2 separate regions of the Homo sapiens genome follow, and region 1 is linked to region 2. Evidence: fine-mapped expression QTL. Tissue or cell type: whole blood. Region 2 holds a variant in brackets; the other region holds the start of a gene. All regions are shown on one strand. Distances are from middle to middle.

The links. PIP is the estimated chance that this variant, and not a neighbour inherited with it, causes the effect.
Region 1: ZKSCAN2 starts here. The variant in region 2 is fine-mapped to the expression of ZKSCAN2 in whole blood (TOPMed, PIP above 0.99). The same link has a PIP of 0.9 or more in tibial nerve.

What each region holds. Positions count from the first base shown.
Region 1 is chr16:25,254,477-25,262,576 of GRCh38, forward strand. It overlaps ZKSCAN2 (zinc finger with KRAB and SCAN domains 2), which reads right to left and starts at 3,369. Exons shown (of 7, transcript NM_001012981.5): 1 at 2,253-3,369; 2 at 730-916. The coding sequence starts at 2,651. It overlaps ZKSCAN2-DT (ZKSCAN2 divergent transcript), which reads left to right and starts at 3,101. Exons shown (of 1, transcript NR_170220.1): 1 at 3,101-6,590. RefSeq lists enhancers at 2,735-3,295, 3,711-4,030, 4,151-4,230 and silencers at 2,981-3,220, 3,301-3,500.
Region 2 is chr16:25,361,232-25,369,336 of GRCh38, forward strand. No RefSeq gene overlaps it. Among named protein-coding and RNA genes, the nearest start is that of LINC02191, 68 kb to the right of the region's middle. The variant G/T (reference allele first, on the strand shown) is at 4,697.

The DNA of each region.
Region 1 (8,100 bases), 110 kb before region 2:
AACACAAATGCCTTGTTCCCTTTCAAACAGCTTTTTGACTTATTTATAGTCAGCCAAGAGCACATACACATGGCAGGACTGAAAAACACATGATGATTGTAGAATGTAGATCTTATTTTATTTTTTTGTAGAGAAAATGTGTTTGTCTCGCTATCTTGCCCAGGCTGGTCTTGAACTCCTGGCTTCAAGAGATCCGCCTGCCTCGGCCTCCCAAAGTGTTGGGATTACGACGTGAGTCACTGTGTCCAGCCATGGAGAGTTTACCACCACAGGATCTCATAGCTGGCCCAGGCAATCTAAGTTTCCCCAGTTTGGATCTTTTTTTTTTTTTTTTTGAGACAGGGTCTCGCTCTGTCACCCAGGCTGGAATACAGTGGTGTGATCACGGCTTACTGCAGCCTCAACCTCCTGGGTTCAAGCAATCCTCCTGACTCAGCCTCCTGAGTAGCTGAGACCACAGGTGCACGCCAACACACCTGGCTAATATTTTTTTTTTTTTTGCGATTTTGTAGAGACTGGGTTTTCCCATGTTGCCCAGACTCAGTTTCCATCTTTATGATACCTTTTCACTTATATTGCACATGTTCCTAATTCTTGAAGTGAATGAAACCTTTCTCCTATTCTGAATATGTATCAAGGAGGCCCTCCACTGCACATTCACAGCGTTGGGGTACTGCGGAAATCTGCCCCAGCCTCTGCACTAGGCGTGCTCCGAGTCTTCCCTCTTACCATTCTTGGGTAAGGGCCGACGTTCTCGCTTTCGGTTCAGCTGTTCCTGGTGTCCTGAGTGGAGGCTTCCAGGTTCCTCCCGAGACACCGCCCTGGGTTGGGTCTCCACCTGCTCTGGCTGGAAGTCTGCCACCTCCCACGCTGCTCCAAGTGGGGAGTGCTTCTCCCGGTGCACGGGACTGCTGACCTGAGAAATGAAGTCAATACCATAAGAGGGAGTAAAACAGGCCCATATCAGGGCGAAATTCTCCCAGGAAAGACATCAAAGAAGGACAGAGACATGAGAAGGAATGAAAATTCCACTCCATTCCCAGTGGAGTCTCTGAGAGCGCTGGGCTGAGAGTACTGTCCAGCAGTCTGGGTGTAAGGTAACAGAACAGTGTTCTTTTTTCTGAGACAGAGTTTCACTTTTGTTGCCCAGGCTGGAGTGCAATGGCACGATCTTGGCTCACTGCAACCTCCACCTCCCAGGTTCAAGCGATTCTCCTCTCTCAGCCTCCCAAGTAGCTGGGATTACAGGCATGCACCAACACAACCGGCTAATTTTATATTTTTTTAGTAGAGATGGGGTTTCATTATGTTGGTCAGGCTGGTCTCGAATTCCTGACCTCAGGTGATCAACATGCCTCGGCCTCCCAAAGTGCTGGGATTACAGATGTGAGCCACCGCGCCTGGCCAGAATAATATTTAATACTAAACAGAGAAGGAAATCTGTCAGGAGTGAAAGAGCCTCCTTGTTGCTAGAATAGATATTATTTGACTCTATATCTGTTACGTTCGCAAAGAAGTTACCAGGACATGAATATATACAGTAGTGAAATGAAAACTTACAAAATTAATATCCACATCTATCTGTCTATCCCTGACCAATACAGCAACCTGCTGATAGATCTCTACACAATGCAAGTCTGATGCAAGGTGAAACCGCAAATCTTGCAAATGCTGCAGGATTTCACGAGGTTCATGAAAGTGAGGTTGAAGAACAACTAGAAGAGCATGCAAGCCACTGAGAAATGAAGATGTGGCAGTTAGACTGGAGGAGAGTGACAGAAATGAAGGCATGAGAGCACTTCAGAAGACACTGAGTGCAACAGTAAAACGCTTGGAGACGGCTCTGGGATAACGGATGAAGTCTTTTTTTTTTTTTTTTAAAGGGGGAACAGAATAGCCTTTTTTGATCAAAATGCGTAAGTGAACCTCTGTGACGCAAAACCATATTGTTCTCTTATATTGTTTTGTTGCAAACATTATGCCAAAGATGACGATAAATGCTTAGGTGAATAATGTCTGGTTTCCATTGTAAGATAATATTTCAATCAAAGCTTTTATTTTTCTATTTCATGTGAAATTCTGATCCCCTTTTAAGTGGATTCACTTAAAGTGAAAAGACCCCCTTATAGGGTCTTTTATTAGTACCATTTATCTTTCTCTGAAGAGCACGTCTTTCTGCAATACATCCCTGCCCACATGCCTTTCCCATTCCCTTTTTTCTAAGTACAAAAATTTGGAAAATCCTCTCTCACCTGCTGTCTTAGTCTTCCAGTCTCTTTCTCCAAATGCACTACCAGGGCCACCGCTTCCTCTCCACTTTGCGGACACTGCTTCTGTGCCCAAGCCTGAATCTTCTCGGGTAAAATGGTGAGAAACTGCTCAATCACCAGCAGCTCAAGTATTTGCTCCTTGGAACGCATTTCTGGCTTCAGCCACCGGCAGCAAAGTTCCCAGAGTTTACTGAAAGCTTCATGGGGTCCAGTCACATCCTCATAACAGAATTGCCTGAAGCATTTGCGGAAGGTCTCAGAGCTATCCGATCCTTCCAGAATGGGCTCTGATGCCCACTCAGGGTCCTTTTCCACCTTCATTATTAGGCATCCCTCAACCTCCAGGGGCGCGTCGATCTGAGAGTCGAGGGCGACAGCCATGCTGCAGCCCAGGGGTCAACTTCACGTCTAGCTCAAGGTGGGGACCCAAAGAAGACTCCAAGCGCTCCCTGCTTAATGTTCCTGGGAGTGTGATAAGGTACGGAGGTAAAAACGGCCAGGTCGGCAGGAACAGGGTATTCCAGGCTGATTAATCAAATCTATGCCAGGCCCTTGAAAAGGTGAACGTATACTCTAAGATGCAAAAGCCTGGCCTCTTCTCCAAACAAGATGTGACCGCGCAATGTGGTTTTCCAGAGTGCATCCCTCTTAGTGCAAAGTCGGAAACCGGGAGGCTGGACGACTGGGAGAAAAATGAAGCAGGCTGAGGAAAGGCTGGGCGGAGGCGGACAGCCGGGCCGGGAGGGGGTGTGTCCGCTACTCCCGGGTCGGGCGCGGAGAGGCGAGTCCCCGAGTGGGTGGGGCCGGATGTGCAGGCCCCGCCCGGCGCCAGGTTCCGGGCTCGGGTCACCGCAGCACGTCCAGGCCGCCGCGGGTGCCGCTGGGGCCGCCGGATTCCGAGAGCGGCGCCGGGCTCTTTCGGGCCCACGACGGCCCCGACCGTCCTGAGGAAACCGCTGCCGCCGAGGAAAGGCCGCAAAAACTGTTCCGCCCGGAAGGGAGAAGAGCTGCGGGGCGAAGCCAGGGCTCGCAGGGGGCAGCGGCAGGCTGCTCGCGTTCGGCCTCGTCCACTCGGCCCGCGGAGAGCGCGGGGGGCGCTGGGAACCGCAGTCACGCATGCGCCGCCTGCCACCGAGCGCCGCGGGGCCCGCGCGAGGCGTCCTGGCGGGCGAGGGGCTGGGGGAGGGGGGGGGGGCCGTGCGGTGGACTCTCGCGAGAGCGCGCGGCGCGGTGACTCGTCGCTGAGGGACTTTAAGATTGTAGAGGGGCGCGGAGGGTCCTCCCCGGGGCGGAGGGACACAGAGGGATTCTAGGGAACCTGCCGTCGCGAGTCCCGCTTCAGGCGGAGAATCTAGGCGGCGGCGGGGCCTCCCTGAGGCGGAGGAGTCGGCACCGGGGCCTGGCTGCCGGGGAAGGAGAGCACGGGAGCGGGGACTCCTGTGTCTGGCGGAGGGACACGGCGTTCCGGTGGAGGGATCTGTTCCTTGTACCTGGTCCAGGGTTGCGGTCGGGGATGGAGCGGTTACCCCGACCCTGCGGGACCTTCTTCCTCTGGCGGAGGTGCACGGCGCGGCGTGGTGTTTTTCTGGCGGAAGTATCTGTGCGTGGCCCCAGGCCCTTCCCGGCGCGGTCTCATCTGGGGCCACTTGTTGGCCCTCGCGTTGGGGAGGTTCATGTGGTGCATCCTGATGAGAAGGGGGGTCACAGGGGTCTCGGGGCCAGGGTTCAGCCAGCCAGGCCCCAGCTTGCTCTCTTCTGGTGCTGCCCCTGTCCCTGAATTCATAGACCCGGCTTTCCCTCTCTTGAGCACCTACTATGTGCCAGGCTGCGCTTTGCGCATGTAGCAGAGGCAACAGTGTCACCTGGGAAGCTGGTTTCCCCCAAAGGAACTCTTGTCTGTCCGTTGTTGCAGAGCCAGCGCATGAGACCAAGTGTGAGTATCAGGCAGTGCAGCCTTCATTCAGTGGCCATGGAATTGGAGAAGTGGGAGGGTAGCTCGCAAATCAAGCTCTCAGCTCTTGGAAACTGAGAAGTTACAGGTAATAGGGAGTGTTGACGAAAAGTAAAACCGTGCAAAATATTTGAAGAGATTTATTGTGAGCCAAATACGAGTAACCACAGCCTGTGATACAGCCCTCTCGAGGCCCTGAGAACATGTGCCCAAGGTGGTCGGGGTGCAGCTTGGTTTTATGTTTTAGGTTGGCATGAGACATCAGTCAAATACATTAAATACATTGGTTTGGTCCAGGAAGGCGGGACAACGCAAAGGGGTGGGGGTGGGGGCTTCCAGGCTATAGGTAAATTTAAATATTTTCTAGTTGACAATTGGTTGAGTTTGTCTGAAGACCTGGGATTGATAGAAAGGAAGTGTTCAGGTTAAGATAAAAGATAGTGGAGACTAAGGTTCTTTTGAAGTCTTATGGTGGCTGCTCTTAGAGATAATAGATGACAAATGTTTCCTATTCAGATCTTCAAAAGGTGTTAGACTTTTAGTTAATCCGTTTAGGATTGGGAGGGCCTGGAAGAAAAACATCTAGCTATGTTAATAGATGTTCTTTACAGATGCACATTTTACCCCACAAAGGATAGCTTTTGGGGGAAAATGCTGTCCTTTATGGAAGAAATTGCAAAATAGGGCAAGGAAACATGTTTTGGGGTAAAATATTTTGACTTTCTTTTTGTCACGTAATGTTATGCCAGAGTCAGAATGGAAAGTAAGTCATCATATATAGGATTAAATAAAACCCATCTGATGAGAATTTATGGTTTGTAGGTCATGACTCCCCAGATCCCTTAGATAGGAATTTGGGCAGGATTAAAAAAATCAAGAGTTTAGGCTGGTCGTGGTGGCTCACGCCTATAATCCCAGCATTTTGGGAGGCCAAGGCAGGTGGATCGCTTGAGGTCAGAAGTTTAAGACCAGCCTGGCCAACATGGCGAAACCCCGTCTCTACTAAAAATACAAAAATTAGCTGGGCATGGTGGCACACGCCTGTGATTCTAGCTGATTGGGAGGCTGAGGCATGAGACTCAACTTGAACCCGGGAGGCGGAGGTTGCAATGAGCTGAGATTGTGCCACTGCACTCCAGCTTGGTTGACAAAGTGAGACTCTGTGTCAAAAACAAAACAAAACAGAAAAAAAAAACAAAAGAATCAGAGCTTAGTCGTCAGGTGTCCTTAATGAAGGGGCTGGGCATTAAGAGCAAGGCGAGGAGGCAGAAGGAAAGCTTGAGCCCAGGAATTGGAGACCAGCTTGGGCAACATGGTAAGACCCTGTCTCTAAAAAAAATAAAAATTAAGAACAAGAGGAGGAATATTCATGTTTTTTCTTGGGAAGGGAGGTAGATTTTCCTGGAATCAAGGAGCTGCCCCTTTTTTTGTCCTTTTTTTGGTCTCTTCGGGTCATCACGGTGATTGTCAACTGTCATGGCAACCAGTGGGAATGTCATTTAGTACTGAAGTTGGATTAGAATGAAGCTAGAGGTTCTTCAGAGGTCGAGTAAGCTAAGAAGGAACCTATGACCACAGACAACCTGTTTTCTAAAAATAAGCAGAGTTAAATCTGAGTAGGAATTTAGCTATGTCATGGAGGCATTGCATTGGGTAACAAAAGCCAGGTAGGCGTCCAGCTAAGTCCCCTAGGCCCTGCAACGGGTAACAGCAGTACTGACTCTATGTTAGAGAAAAGCTTGCTTGCTTGAGTATAATTATTGTTTTGCCTGAGTTTGTAAACTATTCACTAAAAACAGCCACAGAAAAAAACAGGACCTTCTTCAACAGATAAAACACACAGACCCGCAGCTTTGGGAACAGGCTGATGGCCCCTGCACAGTCTAGTCACAAGGCATTGACCAAGAAAGTAATGACTAACTGCCCATCTGAGACTGCGCATGATTCACAAGAATGTTTCTTTGTTTTGTTTTTTGAGACAGTCTTGGTCTGTCTCCCAGGCTGGAGTGCAGTGATGTTGGTTCGCTGTAGCCTCTGCCTCCTGAGTAGCTGGGACTACAGGCGTGTGCCACCGCACCTGGCTAATTTTTGTATTTTTAGTAGAGATGATGTTTGACTATGTTGGCCAGGATGGTCTCGAACTCCTGACCTCAAGTGATCCACCTGCCTCGGCCTCCCAAATTGCTGGGGTTACAAGTATGAGCCACCGCTCCTGGCCCACAAGAATGTTTTGATCATTATTTCTCCTAATTTTCCTTAAAATCCCTGGATCTAGAGGCACAACTGAGAAAGGTGGTCTTTGAATGCTAGTGCACTGCCTTTTGCAGGTTGCTGGTTTCTCGAATAAAGCTAACTTTGCTTTCACCAAAGCTTGTCTTTTGAGTTTTTGGCTTTCAGGCGACGAGTGGCCTGGACACCAGTTCGGCTACATGTATGTCAGTGGGCAAAACAAAAATCCTTATTCTGGGAGGTAGATAGCTTATTAGAAAACACAACCTAATCACTTGTTTCCCAAATGTTAAAAATTGAGCCAATTTTAGCCCCAGAAGCTTAGGGTACCATGTACATAACAGGCATTACCTGAGGGTGGGGCAGAGAGAATCAGTGGGGTACCTCGTATATGCCAGGGGTTGTATCAGCATCCTTACACAGCTCATTTTTCTTTTTAAATAATACTTATTGAGGACCTATTTAATGCCAGATATGGTGGTAGGTAGGGAGCAAAAGCAGGATTCCCCTCCCATTATTGAGTTTTCAGTCTGGTGGGAGAGGCAGGAATTAAATAAGTAATCCACAAACTCAAGTACAATTCTAAGGGAGATGGGTGCCACCAAGAAGAGACATGGTGCTGAGAACCTATGTCTGTCAGAGGGATTTGATCTATTTGGGAGGTCTGGAAAGGTTTTTTTGAAGAAGCAGTGCTAGGGGTGAGATCCAAAGGAGAAGAGCTAATTAGGCAAAGCCTAGTCCTCACAAAAATCCTATAAACCAGATATGATTACCTTCATTTTAGAGTTTAGGGCATTGAGACTTGAGCAAGGTGATGTCACTGCCCAAGGTTACATCAGATTAAATGGCAACCCAGGATTCAGATTCAAATAAGAGTAGGGTTCTTTATATTCTCCTTGGGCTATTTGGTGGTTTTAGGAGAGGCAAGTATCACAAACAGCTTGGGGACATGAGGGAGCAGGAATCACAAACTTGAAAGCCTGCAGAGCTCAGGCAGATAGCATAGAGTGAAGTAGGGCAGAGTGTAAGACAATAGGGGATGGTGGGGAGTGTGGTGAGCTGAAGGCCACATTTCCTGTCTAAAGGAAGCAGCCACTAGTTCCAGTCTCTTGTTGCCATGCAGGATTACAGACCAAGCCCTGCTGGATCTTCTGATGATATTATTTTGAGGGCTTGGCGCGGTGGCTCACGCCTGTAATTGCAGCACTTAGGGAGGCCGAGGTGGGCAGATCACAAGGTCAGGAGATCGAGACCATCCTGGCTAACATGGCGAAACCCTGTCTCTACTAAAAATACAAAAAATTAGCTGGGCGTGGTGGTGGGCGCCTGTAGTCCCAGCTACTCTGGAGGCTGAGGCAGGAGAATAGCGTGAACCCGGGAGGTGGAGCTTGCAGTGAGCCGAGATCGCGCTACTGCACTCTAGCCTGGGCAACAGAGCGAGACTCCTTCTCAAAAAACAGGCTAGAGTGCAGTGGTGCAATCATAGCCCACTGCAGCTGGGACTGCAGACACATGCCACTACCCGGCTAATTTTTATATATTTTTTTCAGAGACAGGGTCTCACTATGTTGCCCAGGCTGGTCTGAAACTCCTGAGCTCAAGTGATCAGCCTGCCTTGACCTCCCGAAGTGCTGGAATTACAGGCGTGAG
Region 2 (8,105 bases):
CCGAGTAGCTGGGATTACAGGTGTTCACCACCACACTCAGCTAATTTTGTATTTTTAGTACAGATGGGGTTTTTGCCATGTTGGTCAGGCTGGTATTGATCTCCTGACCTCAGGTGATCCACCTGCCTCGGCCACCCAAAGTGCTGGGATTATAGGTGTGAGCCACTGTGCCTGGCCTCACTTCTGGTTTCATATATTGGCTTCATGACGTCAATCAGGAAAGAGCTCACCTTTTGATATAACTGGGATCCCTAGTAACAACATGGGAGTGTAGTGACTTCTCCGAAGATCACCCAGCTAGTGAGTGACAGACTCAGGATTGAGACCCAGGCACTTGAGTTCCAGAGTCCACGCTTCTAGTCACTATGCTGTTTTATCTCTGGATGCTCAATAGCTGGTTAACAGTCTGACTCCAGGGTTCAAAGAGAGCTCTGGATTCTTCCAGGCATTACATTGTATATTTGTTAAATTCCACCAGAAAGCCCTTTATCTCCATAAGGAGAAGACTTTTCCCTTTGTTTGGCCATATTAGGAGCTGCAGGGTTGAGCAAAGTGTTCTGATCTGATGGTCTGTCTGAAGGTTGGCAGCTCCTCTCAGAATCCTCCACTTAGAGCAGAGGATCCCACCTTTCACAAGCCTGGCTCAGCCAGCCAACACAAACAGGGAAATGAATGTGAAAAATAGTGGGTAGCCGTGAGGGCCTTCCAAACAACAGCAAGAATTCACCTTCTCTGGCTTTGAGACTCTGGATGAACGAGTAAAGTGCATTGCACCACTCACCTTGTATTCTATTTAAATGGTGCACTCTGGAGTTGCTTCGTGTTGGCATACCTCATTGTCACCCACTTAGCATCAGTTTCCTGTTTTCCTGTGGACTGCTGTTCGAGTCACTGCATCAGTATTTGGCATCACTTTTTGTGTTAACTTGATCATAATAAGATCCTCCATTCTGTTCTTACCTCATTAAACAGGATTTGGAATCTTACCCAGTGTTTTGCATTGCCACTTTTATTTGGTGATGCTGGCATAGTGTAGGTGCCCGACTCAATATCTCAGAGGGGAAGAGGTGAAGAAGGAAAAAAAGATCTCAGATTGCAGGTGAGGCTTCTGCAGGAAGCTGGGAGGGAGTGGCCCTGATAGGCATTGCTTTGTTGGTTTATGGGACCTTAGATGGGAAATAAAAAGAATGCTCAAGCTCCCTCCAACCCTATCCTGAGAAACCTCTGTTATAGCCAGGATGAAATCTGTAAGATATTAATATGTATTTCAAGATGTATGTCAGTGTCCTTGACTTATGGTTGAATTCAACCATAGATAGTGTAAATGGACAGATGTACAATTCCAGAACATCTCATTGAAATAAAAGCTTTATTTCTTTCAGGTTCAGATTCATATGTGTAGCATACTTCCTATGTTCCAGGCTCTCTTATGACAGTTTTTAAAAGTATTTATTTGTACAGTATTCCAGATGTTAACAGCCTGGGTGTTCCTAGGATCTTTGTCATACTGGGGTCATCTTGGCCTTTAAAATTTATTTTTATTTTTAATTAATTTTTTAAATTGTTATGAATTTAGGGGTACAAGTGTAGTTATGTTACATGGATATATTGTGTAGTGGTAAAGTCTGGGATTTTACTGTACCCATCAACTATATACTGTACATCGTACCCGATAGGTAGTACCATAGTACCCCGTTCCCATCCACCTACCTTTTGGATTCCTCAATGTCTATTATTTCCATCTTTATGTTCCTGTGTGCCCATTGTTTAGCTCTGACTTATAAGTGAGAACATGCAGTATTTGACTTTCTGTTTCTAAGTTACTTCACTTAGGATAATGATCTCCAGTTCCATCCATATTGCTGCAAAACACATAATTTCATTCTTTTTTATGGCTGAGTAATATTCCATGGTCAATAGATGATTGGCTTTAATACAGTCATCTGTTGATGAACACTTAGGTTGATTTCATGACTTTGCCATTGCTTATAGTGCTGCGATGAACATATGAGTGCAGATACCTTTTTGATTAAATGATTCCTTTTCCTTTGGGTAGATACCCAGTAGTGGCATTGCTGGGTCAAAGGGTAGCTCTATTTTTAGTTTTTTGAGAAATCTCCATACTGTTTTTCATAAAGGTTGCACTAATTTACATTCCCACCAACAGTGTATATGTGTTTTCTTTTCTCTGCAGCCTCCTCAGCATCTCTTGTTCTTTGACATTTTAATAACAGCCATTTTGACTGGTGTAAGATGGTATCTCACGGTCGTTTTAATTTGCATTTCTTTGATGATTAGTGATGTTGAGCATTTTTTTCATATAATTTAAATAAAATTTGTGTTAGCTTTGTAAACATCAGAGTCCCAGGAGGAAAGAATGGCATACTCTATAGAGGTTAACTGGGAAACTCACACCTGGGTTTCTTGGCATTCCAAAAGTCTGCACATATGTTCTCTGTATGTAAAGCCTTCAATGAATGTTGGAAATGCCTTTTAGTATCTAGAGGAAGCATCCCAAGTAGTATAGGCTCAAGGACTAAGGAGCCAGTAGGAGTTGGTGAAGCACATGGAAATAGCACCAGCAGGGAGCTGTGACCAGCCTCAGGCACGAAGAAGAAGGGAAGGGAGAGACTAGCAGTGTTATTGGAAACTGAAACAGCTGTAGACATGGAAGAGGGCCAGCCAGCTAGGAGTGGTGGCAGTAGGTGGATTCAGGGCTCTATTGGGGGCCAGGACTAAATACCCCACCCTCTGAGCTCTTGCTGCTGCCTCCCATTGACTGCTCCTATCCAGCAGGCAGAGGGCGAGGGATGTCTGGTGATTCAATCTGTGGAGCTAATTATCCTCCTGGACACAGAACAGAGCTGTGAAGAGTGTGGAGTGGAACTAGGACACACTTCTACCTCATATGCAGTAGGAAATCCAATTTTTCAAGAGGTTCTTAGAGACCATAAAGCAGGAAAGGAGACCCAGAAGAAACTAGGTTATATGCCATCACAGACACCCCCTAAGATGTAGAGGGTGTCTGTGATGACATATAATCTAGTTAACCTAGCTTAAACTAACGAATATTTATTGCTGCCATGTAAGCAATAGTGAGAGGTCAGCCCCACATGGTCACTCAGGGACCCAGGCTAATGGTGCCCTATGTTCTTATAGGTTCCAGAGGGAACATGAAGCCTTCTCAGTGCTGAAGACGGAAGGGAAGTGTGCATGCCCTTTCCACTGCTTTGTCCTGGAAGTGACAGACATCATCTCTATTCACATTTTATGAGTCATCTCTTCTTTTCTTTTCTTTTTCGAGATGAAATCTCATTGTGTCACCCAGGCTGGAGTGCAGAGGCATAATTATAGCTCACTGTAGCCTTGGCCACCTGGGGTCAAGTGAGCCTCCTGCCTCAGCCTCCTGAGTAGCTGGAACTACAGGTGCACAGTGCCATGCCTGGCTATTAGGTTAATGCAAAAATAATCACGGTTTTTGTCATTGCTTTCAATCTACATTTACTTTTACTGCAATTGCTTTTGCACCAACCTATACTTTTTAATTTTTTTTGTAGAGACAGGGTCTCGCTATGTCACCCAGGCTGGTCTTAAACTCCTGGCTAGCTCTTATTTTTTAGCTTTGTTTCCCTGCCCTACTTGAAATCCTTTCCCCTCTCCTGGAATTTCTCCCCTCTCCCCACTAGATTCCTGTTTATTTCTTTTTTTCCTTTTTTTTTTTTTTGAGATGGAGTCTCGCTCTGTCACCCAGGCTGGAGTGCAGTGGCACCATCTTGGCTCACTACAAGCTCCGCCTCCCACAGGTTCACGCCATTCTCCTGCCTCAGCCTCCCGAGTAGCTGGGACTACAGATGCCCGCCACCACGCCTGGCTAATTTTTTGTATTTTTAGTAGAGATGGGGTTTCACCATGTTAGCCAGGATGGTCTTGATCTCCTGACCTTGTGATCTGCCTGCCTCAGCCTCCCAAAGTGCTGGGATTACAGGCGTGAGCCACTGCGCCCAGACTTCTGTTTATTTCTTATACAAACCAGTTAATTATCTGTTTTTTTCTTACCCTAGAGTAACCTGGCTTTGTTTAGAATGGCTCAGTTCATAAGCAAAAATATCTATTAAGTATATTCTCATGAAAGAATAGGTCAATTCACTTCTTGAGAGAACTCCTGAGGTTAGCTTAAAAAAAACACAAAACCTCATTTTTCCCCTGACTTACACTTTCTTTACTTAAAAATGGCTACATTAAGAGTTAGAGAGAAGCTCTAGGCTATTTACCTATGGCCACGTAGAATTTGACTCATATTTCTTGACTCTGTGTCCATAGCTCTTTCCTTTATCTGACACCATTTCTTTTCTATATTCTCTTCCTAGAAAAAAAAAAAAAAACGCTCTTCCCTTAACACCATCTGCCTGGCTTTTCTTTAATCTTGTGCAGTTCAGCTCTGCATATCAAGAAGCCAACACCTTGGTAAGAATCATTAATTTTCAGAAGCTTTTATTTCCGTGACTCCAAAGATAATTGCTAAAAATAGGTGTATTCCCTGCAAGATGCTGTTAAAATCAACTCGTTTTGTGGTCAGGCTTCCCAAAGGCACCAAGGCCGTGTTGAGAATGCAAGTGTTTTAGCAGCTGTGACAAACTTATCCCATGAACAGGCATGCAGTCAATAATTAGTTTTCAGAGGCAGCCTTTGGTACTCG[G/T]AGTTAGAAGCAGGTGGGTACACATGCCTGGAGATGCCCAGGTAGACTTGGAATTTCCCAAGAGGGGAACGTGCATCATTTTTCAAAAATGCAGGAGTGGCATGGGGAAAAGAAGTTAGCTGGGAAACTCACACCTAGGTTTCTTGGCATTACAAAAGTCTGCAAATATATTCCCTGTATGTGAAGCCTTCCATTAATGTTGGGAATGAATGCCTTTTAGCATCTAGAGGAGGCATCCTGATTAGCATAGGCTCAAGGTCTAAAAGAAACTAGAAGCAGGTTACAAGTGGGTACAGTTCTTAATTTCTGTAGTCCCCACTTAGGTCCGTAGAGGGAGGTAGTTCTGCTAATGCTTCTGTTTTCTTTGCAGTGTGGGGAGGAAGTTTATGCATTTGGGCAAGGCATGGCTTACTTCCTCATTGGGTGATCCAGAGGCAACTGTTACACTTTTCCCTCTCCCTCTGTCTGTGGTCATCCTTCCTCCACCTCTCCCTCTCTTCCTCCCTTCCTGTCTTTCTCTGTGCTTCTTTGTATCTGCCGTCCTTCCTCTTGTGGACCGATCTGCTCCCAGGTACAACGAGGACTGGCATTTCCTTCTTCTTGTAGAGACCAGGCAGACTCTTCTGTGTTTGCCTTTTCACACACTCTTCTGTGTTTACAGCTTTTCAACCTGTAACTGGGTGGGGAAATCTGGGTCATGCTGGTCTGAAAGTCTAGATTTGTAAGGGGAGCCATGCGATGCTCTCCAATTGAGCTTCATAAGGAAAACTAATTCTGCAGTTGATCCTCCTCTGGCTCTTTGAATGTTTCCCTCAAATAGGTTAGAATCCACAGCAGGAGGAAAGGGCATGACTAATGTCCCTGAATTTTCTGCACACGGATGGCTGGCTGGGAACTCTGAAAAGTTCTACATGAGGACTAGCCCTTGAAGACTAAGGACGATGTGGGGAAACACATTTCTTATTATATCACAATGTCACAGAGATATTTATATTTTTCTTGGGGTCAACAGGGGTTCATTCTCTCAGTGATCGGGGGTGAAGCCAGGTTGGGAAAGCAAGGGAAATTTGCCTCAACACAGGCTATTGCATGCAGTGGATGCACTTTTTAAATTTAAATTTATGGCTTTTTGCTAAGATCCATGGTTTAAAAAAAAAAAAAAAAAAGAGTATAGGCTGGGCGTGGTGGCTCATGTCTGCAATCCCTGCACTTTGGGAGGCCGAGGTGGGTGGATTGCCTTGAGCTCAGGAGTTTGAGACCATCCTGGCCAACATGGTGAAATCCCATCTCTACTAAAAATACAAAAATTATAATCCCAGCACTTTGGGAAGCCAAGGCGGGTGGATCACGAAGTCAGGAGATCGAGACCATCCTGGCTAACACGGTGAAACCTCATGTCTACTAAAAATGCAAAAAAATTAGCCGGGCGTGGTGGTGGGCGCCTGTTGTCTCAGCTACTTGGGAGGCTGAGGCAGAAGAATGGTGTGAACCTTGAGGGCAGAGCTTGCAGTGAGCCGAGGTTGCGCCACTGCACTCCAGCCTGGGCGACAGAGCAAGACTCTGTCTCAAAAAAAAAAAAAAAAAAATTAGCTGGGCATGGTGGCATGCACCTGTAGTCCTAGCTACTCAGGAGGCTGAGGCAGGAGAATTGCTTGAACCGGGAGGTGGAGGTTGCAGTGAGCTGAGATCGTGCCACTGCACTCCAGTCTGGCAAAAGAGTGAGATTCTGTCTCAAAAAAAAAAAAATTAAATTTTATCTATTTATCTTCTTTACATATATATTTTTGAGACAGGGTCTTGCCCTGTCACCCAGGCTGGAGTGCAGTAGTGCAATTATGGCTCACTGCAGCCACCTAATTTTTAAATTTTTTTGTAGAGATAGAGTCTCACTACGTCGCCCAGGCTGCTCTCAAACCCCTGGCCTCAAGTGATCCTCCCCACTCAGCCTCCCATATAGCTAAGATTAGAGGTGCATACTCTTTTTTTTTTTTTTTAAATTTCAACTTTTTTTTAAGACTCAGGGTATATGTGCAGCTTTGTTGGGTATATTGCGTAATGCTGAAGTTTGGGCTATAAATGATCTTTTCACCCAGGTAGTGAGCATAGCACCCAATAGGTAGTTTTTCAACACTTGCCCCATGAGTCCTTTCTCCCTCTGTTAGTCCCCAGTGTGTGTCACTCCCATCTGTATGTCCATGTGTAGCCAATGTTTAGCTTCCACTTATAAATGAGAACATGCAGTATTTGGTTTTCTATTCCTGCATTAATTCACTTAGCATAATGGCCTCCAGCAGCATCCATGTTACTGCAAATGATATTGATAGAAGCAGGAGGCAGATAAGGGAGGGCCCCGGGAGAATCTCTGACCCGCCCTACAAGTGTTTACATCAGATGCTTATGTGCAGATGAGCGAACTTGCTCAGGGCTTTCTGTGGACGTGCCCACCATGGACTGGGGGCCGGCCTGCACACTGGGAGAATGGGGTGGAGCCACTGGGGATTTGCACCTTATGCAGGAGGGAGGAGCCTGGCCTCTTCAGCTCCTGTGTGTGGTGGCCTGGTATTTAATCTGTGAGGTGGGAGCCTGTTGGCAGGACCTCTTCTTTTTTTCACTGGGAGATTTTTTTAAATAAATTCCACTCTTGACCGGGTGCAGTGGCTCACACCTATAATCCCAGCACTTCGGGAGGCCGAGGCGGGTGGATCACCTGAGGTCAGGAGTTTGAGATCAGCCTGCCCAACATGGTGAAACCTCGTCTCTACTAAAAAATACAAAAAAAAATTAGCTGGGCATGGTGGTGGGTACCTGTAATCCCAGCTACTTGGGAGGCTGAAGCAGGATAATCGCTTGAGCCCGGAAAGTGGAGGTTGCAGTGAGCCGAGATTGCGCCATTGCACTCCAACCTGGGCAACAAGAGCAAAACTCCATCTCCAAAAAAAAAAAATAATAATAATGAATAAAATAAAATAAAAATAACTTCCACTCTCCTCACCTTTCAATGTGTCTGCGTGCCTAATGTTTCCTGGTTGTGTGACAAGAACCCAGATTTTAGCTGAACTAAGGAGCAAAAGATACTGCATCAATAAGACTTCAATCTTTTTTTATGGCTGTGTAGTATTCCATAGTGTAAATGTACCACATTTTCTTTATCCAACCCATTGTTGGTAGGCACCTAGGTTGATTCCATGTCCTCGCTATTGTGAATAGTGCTGCAATGAACATACAAGTGCAGTTATCTTTTTGGTAGAATGATTTATTTTCCTTTGGGTATATACCTATAGTGTGACTGCTTGGTTGAGTGGTAATTCTATTTTTAGTTCTTTGAGAAATCTCCAGACTGGTTTCTACAGTGGTTGAACTAATTTACATTCCCACCAACAGTGTATGAGCGTTCCCTTTTCTCTGCAGT